2 linked regions of the Homo sapiens genome follow. The protein of the gene in region 1 purifies or fractionates together with the protein of each later gene. This does not show direct contact. Each region holds a gene or a part of one and is shown in the gene's direction. Other genes may lie near its edges. The genes, in order: GRK4 and DGKE.

What was found.
Region 2: the proteins of GRK4 (region 1) and DGKE purify together in Homo sapiens (affinity purification with mass spectrometry; one large-scale study listed by BioGRID and IntAct). This does not show direct contact.

Annotation. Positions count from the first base shown.
Region 1 is NC_000004.12:2,966,519-2,970,344, forward strand, and holds part of GRK4 (G protein-coupled receptor kinase 4), read left to right. Parts: intron 1-3,826. UniProt on the Homo sapiens protein: Specifically phosphorylates the activated forms of G protein-coupled receptors. GRK4-alpha can phosphorylate rhodopsin and its activity is inhibited by calmodulin; the other three isoforms do not phosphorylate rhodopsin and do not interact with calmodulin.
Region 2 is NC_000017.11:56,843,896-56,847,721, forward strand, and holds part of DGKE (diacylglycerol kinase epsilon), read left to right. Parts: exon of another isoform or gene 1-4; coding exon of another isoform or gene 5-12; intron 13-123; coding exon 124-283; intron 284-1,794; coding exon 1,795-1,914; intron 1,915-3,826. UniProt on the Homo sapiens protein: Membrane-bound diacylglycerol kinase that converts diacylglycerol/DAG into phosphatidic acid/phosphatidate/PA and regulates the respective levels of these two bioactive lipids.

The DNA of each region.
Region 1 (3,826 bases):
CTGTGGTCAGAAAGCATCATTATGTATAGCTTGATTAATGGTTAGAGAAGTTGAATATATAATATTAGATATACATGGATACATGCTGAGTATTGGTTATAATTTAGGGCTTTTTCCCAAGTTGATGACTGTGTTTGTTACTTTAAAGTATCTCCCAGGAAGTACCAGGAGGTGTCTTCTTGGACACATAACTTCATGGACAGCTCCTTGTTTAGCTTCACTGGCTCATATACTAGAAAATTAACCTTTGAAATGAATGAACGTAGCACAAGAGTTATATTCTGGTCCTGAGAAGCGCAATGTTGATTTAATATTATTAGTGAGTCCGGTCATTTCCTGGATTTATTTCAAATAGAATCAGTCAGTCTCAATCCCCCCTCCCTCTCTGGTCCCTGCTATGGTCTGAATATTTGTGTTCCCCCAAAATTCTTATGTTGAAATCTTCACTACGAAGGGGATGGAATTAGGAGGTGGGGCATTTGGGAGGTGATTGGGTCATGAGAGTGGAACCCTCGTGAATGGTATTAGTGCCTTTATAAAAGAAACTAGAGAGACACCCCTCACTCCTTCTACCATGGACACAGAAAGAAGATGCCAGCTATGAATCAGAAAGTGGGCCCTCACCAGACACCAAATCTGTCTTGATCTTGGACTTTTTAGCTTCCAGAACTGTGAGAAATACATTTCTGCAATTTATAAGCTACTCAGTTTATAGTATTTTGTTAGAGCAGCTTGAACAGACTAAGATGGTCTAAACAGAAGATTGTTAGAGCCTTTTCCTTTCAGGAATGTTGGCAGATGATGCTGCACTGAAAGTGTTTGTGTGTCACTCTGCCAGGGACATGAAGGAAGCGTGAAATGATCATATTGGTTTGGTCTTATTTTGTTTCGTTTTGTTTTGAGACAGAGTCTCACTCTGTCACCCAGGCTGGAGTGCAGTGGTATGATCTCAGCACACTGCAACCTCTGCCGCCTGGGTTCAAGTGATTCTCCTGCCTCAGCCTCCCAAGTAGCTGGGACTACAGGCACCCACCATTCCCGGCTAATTTTTTGTATTTTTAGTAGAGACAAGGTTTTGCCATGTTGGCCAGGCTAGTCTTGAACTCCTGACCTCAAGTGATTCGCCCACCTCAGCCTCCCAAAGTGCTGGGATTACAGGCGTGAGCCACTGCACCCGGCCCGTATTGGGTTTTTGTTGGTGTTTTGTTTTATTTTTTTTTCCTTGATATAATTCATAGGTTCATAGATCATATTGTTAATAAATATAAAAACAATTTTTTTTTGAGGCGTCGTTTTGCTCTTGTTGCCCAGGCTGGAGTGCAATGGCGCAATCGTGATCTCGGCTCACTGCAACCTCTGCCTCCCGGGTTCAAGAAATTCTCCTGCCTCAGTCTCCCGAGTAGCTGGGATTACAGGCATGCACCATTATGCCTGGCTAATTTTGTATTTTTAGTAGAGACGGGGGTTTCTCCATGTTGGTCAGGCTGGTCTCGAACTCCTGATCACAGGTGATCCACCCGCCTCAGCCTCCCAAAGTACTGGGATTACAGGCGTGAGCCACTGTGCCCGGCCTGTTTTGTTTTTTTTTTTAATTTAGGATTTTTTCCCTGTATAATATTATTTGTTAAGCAACTTATAACTTTTATGCTTTAAATAAGCTTAAATTATTTCACATCATACTTCTGAGGAGACTTTAACACCGTCTTATCTCTTGGAGAAATTGAAAACAAATGCAGAGAGGAATACGTAATACGTGCATTTAATGTGGGTTTTGGTCTTATATATTGCAATTCTGTTCTGATTTCAGGCTGCGGTGTTATTGAGCAGTTTCTTTAACACCTGCAGCATGGTTAATATACCTGTTATTATTAATGCTGTCTCTTGCTGAGGCTTCCTCCCTAGAACTTTTGCTAACTTAAGCAAATAGGAAATTTATGGAGAAGATATTGGGTAGCTCAAAGAATCAAAGTAAGAACCTAACAATCAGTCTGGAAAGAACAGGATGTGGGACTCATTCATTCATGCATTCATTTGGCAGATGTGTGCTCAGAATGTTCCAGGTACTGTTCCTATAGCAATAAACAACATGTTCAGAAATTCCTGCCATTCTGGAGACCACATTCTTATAGGGGAGGCAGTCTTGAGGCACATAAATAAGACGTGTGGCATATTAGCAAGCAGTGAGTGCCACGGGAGACTACAGCAGGGATGGGGGTAGGAAGCGCCCAGGTGGCATTGGTAGTTGCAGTTTTGGATAGTTTTAGACAGGGGGCTGCTGATTGATAATCAGGTCTCCACGGTCACTCCTGTGACAGAGCAGGTATCTTTTTATTTTATTTATCTGATTTTGCCTCATGAATTTCATGATTCTTATCCTGGGAGAGAGCACCAATTGGCTGGCTTGGCTCTGGCCCCCTTCCTGCATCCGTGGCTAAGGGGGAACCAGGCAGCTGGAATGACAGTCCCACCAAGACATACACCGTGGGGGAGAAGTAAGGGAAGGGCTGCAGAAGAAACCAACAAAGGGCCATTGCAAGGGCCTGTTTACATGACATAGTAAGCAGGCATAGGCCATATGCGCTAGGGCCAGAGGGGTAGCTAGGAGAACGGAGAGGAAAGAGGAGATCAGAGAGATGCTGAAGGTAGAAGACACTGGATAGAGGAGCGATTGCAGAGAATCCTCAAAGTTGCCTTTGAAATTCCCTAGCTGAGGAAATTAAAAGACTGCTCTTTCTAGTCTTGAACTCCTGACCTCAAATGATCCACCCGCCTTGCCCTTCCAAATTGTTGGGATTCCAGGTGTGAGCCACTGTGCCTGGCCAAATTTTCTTTTCTTTTCTTTTCTTTCTTTCTTTCTTTTCTTTTTTTTTTTTTTTAAAGAGAGTTTCGCTCTTGTTGCCCAGGCTGGAGTGCAATGGCACAATCTCGGCTCACCGCAACCTCCGCCTCCTGGGTTCAAGCGATTCTCCTGCCTCAGCCTCCCAAGTAGCTGGGATTACAGGCATGCACTACCACGCCCGGCTAATTTTGTATTTTTAGTAAAGATGGGGTTTCTCCATGTTGGTCAGGCTGGTCTCGAACTCCCAACCTCAGGTGATCCGCCCACCTCGGCCTCCCAAAGTGCTAGGATTTACAGGCGTGAGCCATGGTGCCCAGCCTTTTTTTTTTTTAAAGACAGGGTCTCACTCTGTTACCCCGCTGGAGTGCAGGTGGGGAAATCATAGCTACTGAAGCCTCAAAGCCTTGAACTCTGGGGCCAAGCAGTCCTCCTGTCTCAGACTCCCAAGTGGCTGGGACCACAGGCATGCGCTGCCATGCACAGATAATTTTGTGGTTTTTGTGGAGATGGGGTCTCACTATGTTGCCCAGGCTAGTCTGGAACCCCTGGACTCAAGTGATCCTACCCTCCCACTTCAGCCTCCCAAAGTGCTGGGATTACAGGGTGAACCACTACACCCGGCCTATTAGAATTTTCAACAGCATGTAAGATCAAGTTTTCTAGAAAGAGTTATAAACTTAGTATTTCTTATCTGTCAGATATTTGAAGTAATCTATGTAGTAGTCAGCCAAATTATTTCTCTGCCAACAAAAGGTTACCCCATTTTCCCTAAGCAATAATGTCTACCGTCTGTTACTATCATTATGGTACAGCTAATTTGGGATGCTATCAATCAGCCAGGTTATTAGCAACCAGGTCAGTTTGGTTTTCTTATATTTTCTACTTTGTCTATCTAGATTATAATGGCTTTAAATCAGGATTTTTATTTCTTGGTCAGTGAATCAAATATTGGGTTATTGGCTTTATGCTACTTTAGGACCAAAAATA
Region 2 (3,826 bases), on another chromosome or scaffold:
CCAAATGTTATGGTAAGTAGTGATAAAATTATGTTTTATTTTTTAACAAAAATGATTGTTTTGTGGGTTATCATTGAGATTATGGTTTAAAATTAGTTAATGCTTGTTTCTTCCTTCCCTCAGGTGCATTTGGTGCCAGAAAACAGTACATGATGAGTGCATGAAAAATAGTTTAAAGAATGAAAAATGTGATTTTGGAGAATTCAAAAACCTAATCATTCCACCAAGTTATTTAACATCCATTAATCAGATGCGTAAAGACAAAAAAACAGATTATGAAGTGGTAATTAGAGTTTATTTCTCTAATATGATTGATTTTTAAAAAGCTGCTTAACTCATTGTTTGAGATAGTTAAGACAGTATGTAAGAAGAATTGGTGCCAGGAATAAAATAAACTTAAATAACAGATCAAGACCAAGGAGAGAAATAAAATGCTATTATGGTAAGCCATAAAATCCTACCTAGTTCCTAGAGATGGGTCAAAAATTTTGGCTCTTGAGTTCTTTCATGTCTAAAAGGAAATTGGAAATGTTATATTAGTGGTTTCCAAATCATTGCCTGCATCTGAATGATTTAGGGAGCTTTTTAAAAATACAGATTTCTGAGTAGTACCTTCATTGCCATATTTGATTTAGTAGGTATAGGGTAAGTCCAGGAATTCATCTTTTTTTTTAAGGTCCTCAGAAGATTCTGATGAACAGTCAGTTTTGGGATTCATGATTATTGTCAGTGAAAAGAAAATAGATTTTCCTCACACCTTTTTCTAAAACTATTTTTCTATTTTGAACTTTATACAGGGTCCCTAGAGATAAGTTTATGTTGCACATTAAATGCTCCCACAAATAATGGTGAACACTAAACCTGTTAACAGTTTATAGATGTAGATATGTGTATGAAATTGATGTAACTTATTGAATCTCTCAGTCTTTATGTAGCTCTTAAGGAAACATCATAAAAATTTATGGATTTATTTTCTAATTGGATATACCAAAATAATTGAACTATTTTATTTTAAAATTGTACCTTTTTCAAATTAAGATTTTATGACTTACATGCCACCTTTGTCAATATTCCTGCAAGGGAAGGGACATTTTAAATTTTTCAAACAATATTGTTTTGACAGTTTTTTTAAATGTACAATCTCTTATTTATCTGAGTTCAACCTGAGATCACAAGAGAGAAGAATCTCTAAGTAAAACTATAGAATAACTTCATTAATGGTTACATCTACAAGGAGAGGGGAAGAAGAAATGGTTACATTTTGAAAAGTATTAATTTCATTTGACTTTGAGCTATTAGAAGTCCAGATTTTTTAATCTGAGTACCCCATTTTAAAAAAAGAAATAAAACCTTGCAAAACACACCAGAATACATCCAGTAAAGGAAAATCAAGGTGAAAGGTCAGAGAAAAAAATCAGTGTCTATTCTGTGAATGGTTGAAAGTTATAGAAAGACAGATTTTCAACTCAGTTTAAGTCCAAACTTTCTAATAATTTGATGTAGCAGTGTAATGGGCTGCATTACTAGTGAGTTCCTTATGTGAGTGTGCGAGCATATGCTGGATGACTTATCTAGAATAATGTAGAAGAGAATTAAACATTGAATGGGAGCTTAAATTAGTTAATTTCTGAGGTTCCCTTCCATTCTTAGAATTCTTTGATTTTTATATTGAATTGAGAGAACTAGTATAGTTTTTATTTCAGCAAATTATAGCACCATTGTTCTCAAGGCATGGAAAATGTGCTTTTCATCTTTAAGATACTAAACCTTTTCACTCATGGCAATTTTTTTTAGCTAGCCTCTAAGCTTGGAAAGCAGTGGACCCCATTAATAATCCTGGCCAACTCTCGTAGTGGAACTAATATGGGAGAAGGACTGTTGGGAGAATTTAGGATCTTGTTGAATCCAGTCCAGGTAACTAAAGAAAAAAACTTTTTATATTAATGTTTTCATTTTCCCCAAAATGCAATGATTATTAATGCTTCAAGTCACTAATCACCTGATCATAGGAAAGAATAATAATTACAAAAAGATCAGCCATTTAAATATGTGGATAAACAGGCACTCTTGTGGGAATATAAAATGGTACAACCTCTTTAGAAGACATCTTGGCAGTTTCTTAAAAAGATAAATATAAATTTATTATATCTTCTAGCAAGTCCTCTACTAGGAATCTACCCAAGGGAAGTGAAAACATATTTCTCACAAACATTTGCATGAAAATGTTCACAGCAGCATTATTCATGATAGCTGAAAAGCATAAACAGCCCAGCTGTTCATCAGCTGATGAGTTGATAAACAAAATGTGATGTAGCCCTACAATGGAATACCATGAAATGACAAAAAGGAACAAACTACTGATACGTATATATTACAATAAATGAACCTCAAAAACATACTAAGTGAAAGAAGGCAGATACAAGGGACCTTATATTGTATGACTCCACTTATGTGACTTGTCTAGAAAAGGCAAGTCTGTAGAGGTAGAGAATAGATTATTGGTTCTAGGGCTGGAAATGGGGAGTGATTGCGAATGGACATTGAGGGATCTTATTGAAGCAACAAAAATGTTCTAAACTGGATGATGGTGGTGGTTGTGCAATTCAGTGAACTTAATAAAAATTATTGACTTGTTCACTTCAAATGGGTGAATCTTATATGTAAATTATACCTCAGTTTTAAAAATAAAAGGGATCGTTAAAATTGAATATAATTTTACTTTGAAAAATTAACCAAAAAACAAAAAAATACAAAAAAATTTTAAAGACAACCCATTGTGTAGCAATTAGAAGTGCAATAACTTTGTCCTTCCAATTTGTATTTTTTACACTTTCAATATTATACAGTTTAAGAAAATTATAAAAAATACAGAGAAAATCATTTGCAATTTCTCCATACAAATACATCAGTTCTCTTTTTTCTTGTTCTTTCCATTAATTATCTATGCATTTACTTTACATATTAACAGTACTATAACAATAATCTAGATACAAATTTGCATTCTGATTTTTTTAATTTTAATGGTATAAATATTTTTCCTTGTTTCAACATAGTCCTCATAGTTACATATTTAATGACTAAAATAATTGAATGGAAATAGCATTATTTATCCAGTCTCTACTGTTGAAAGGTAACACTGTCTCTATGATTGTACTATAAATAATGCCACAGTGAATATTTTTATACATATTTTTAGGCATTTTTGTCTTTCGAAATATTTTTCTAGGGTCGTTGACAGAATTATGGATAATCAAAGTTACTTGCATTTTTATGTCATTTTCTATGTATTGCAAAATTGCTTTCCAGAAATTTGTGCTAAGTTGCACTGGTGATTTTTTTTTAAGCCAGTATAAGATATGAAACACTAATTAAAGGTGAACTTAGCACATTGTGGTTTATGTGAACAAGAAGGAGGCAATGTGGTATAGTAGATAAACTATAACTTTTTTTTTTTTTTGAGACAGAGTCTTGCTTTGTTGCCGAAGCTGGAGTGCAGGGGCATGATCTTGGCTCACTGTAACCTCTGCCTCCCAGGTTCAAGTGATTCTCCTACCTCAGCCTCCCGAGTAGCTAGGATCACAAGCACACAACACCACACTGGCTAATTTTTGTATTTTTAGTAAAGACAGGATTTCACCATGTTGGCCAGGCTGGTCTCGAACTCCTGACGTCAAGTGATCCACCCGCCTTGGCCTCCCAAAGTGCTGGGATTATAGGCATGAGTTACCACACCTAGCCTTGTATTTCAGCACTTAATTACCTGGACAATCACAGGCAAGTGATTTAACCTTCCTGCACCTCAGTTTCCAGCCCAATAGAATGAGGC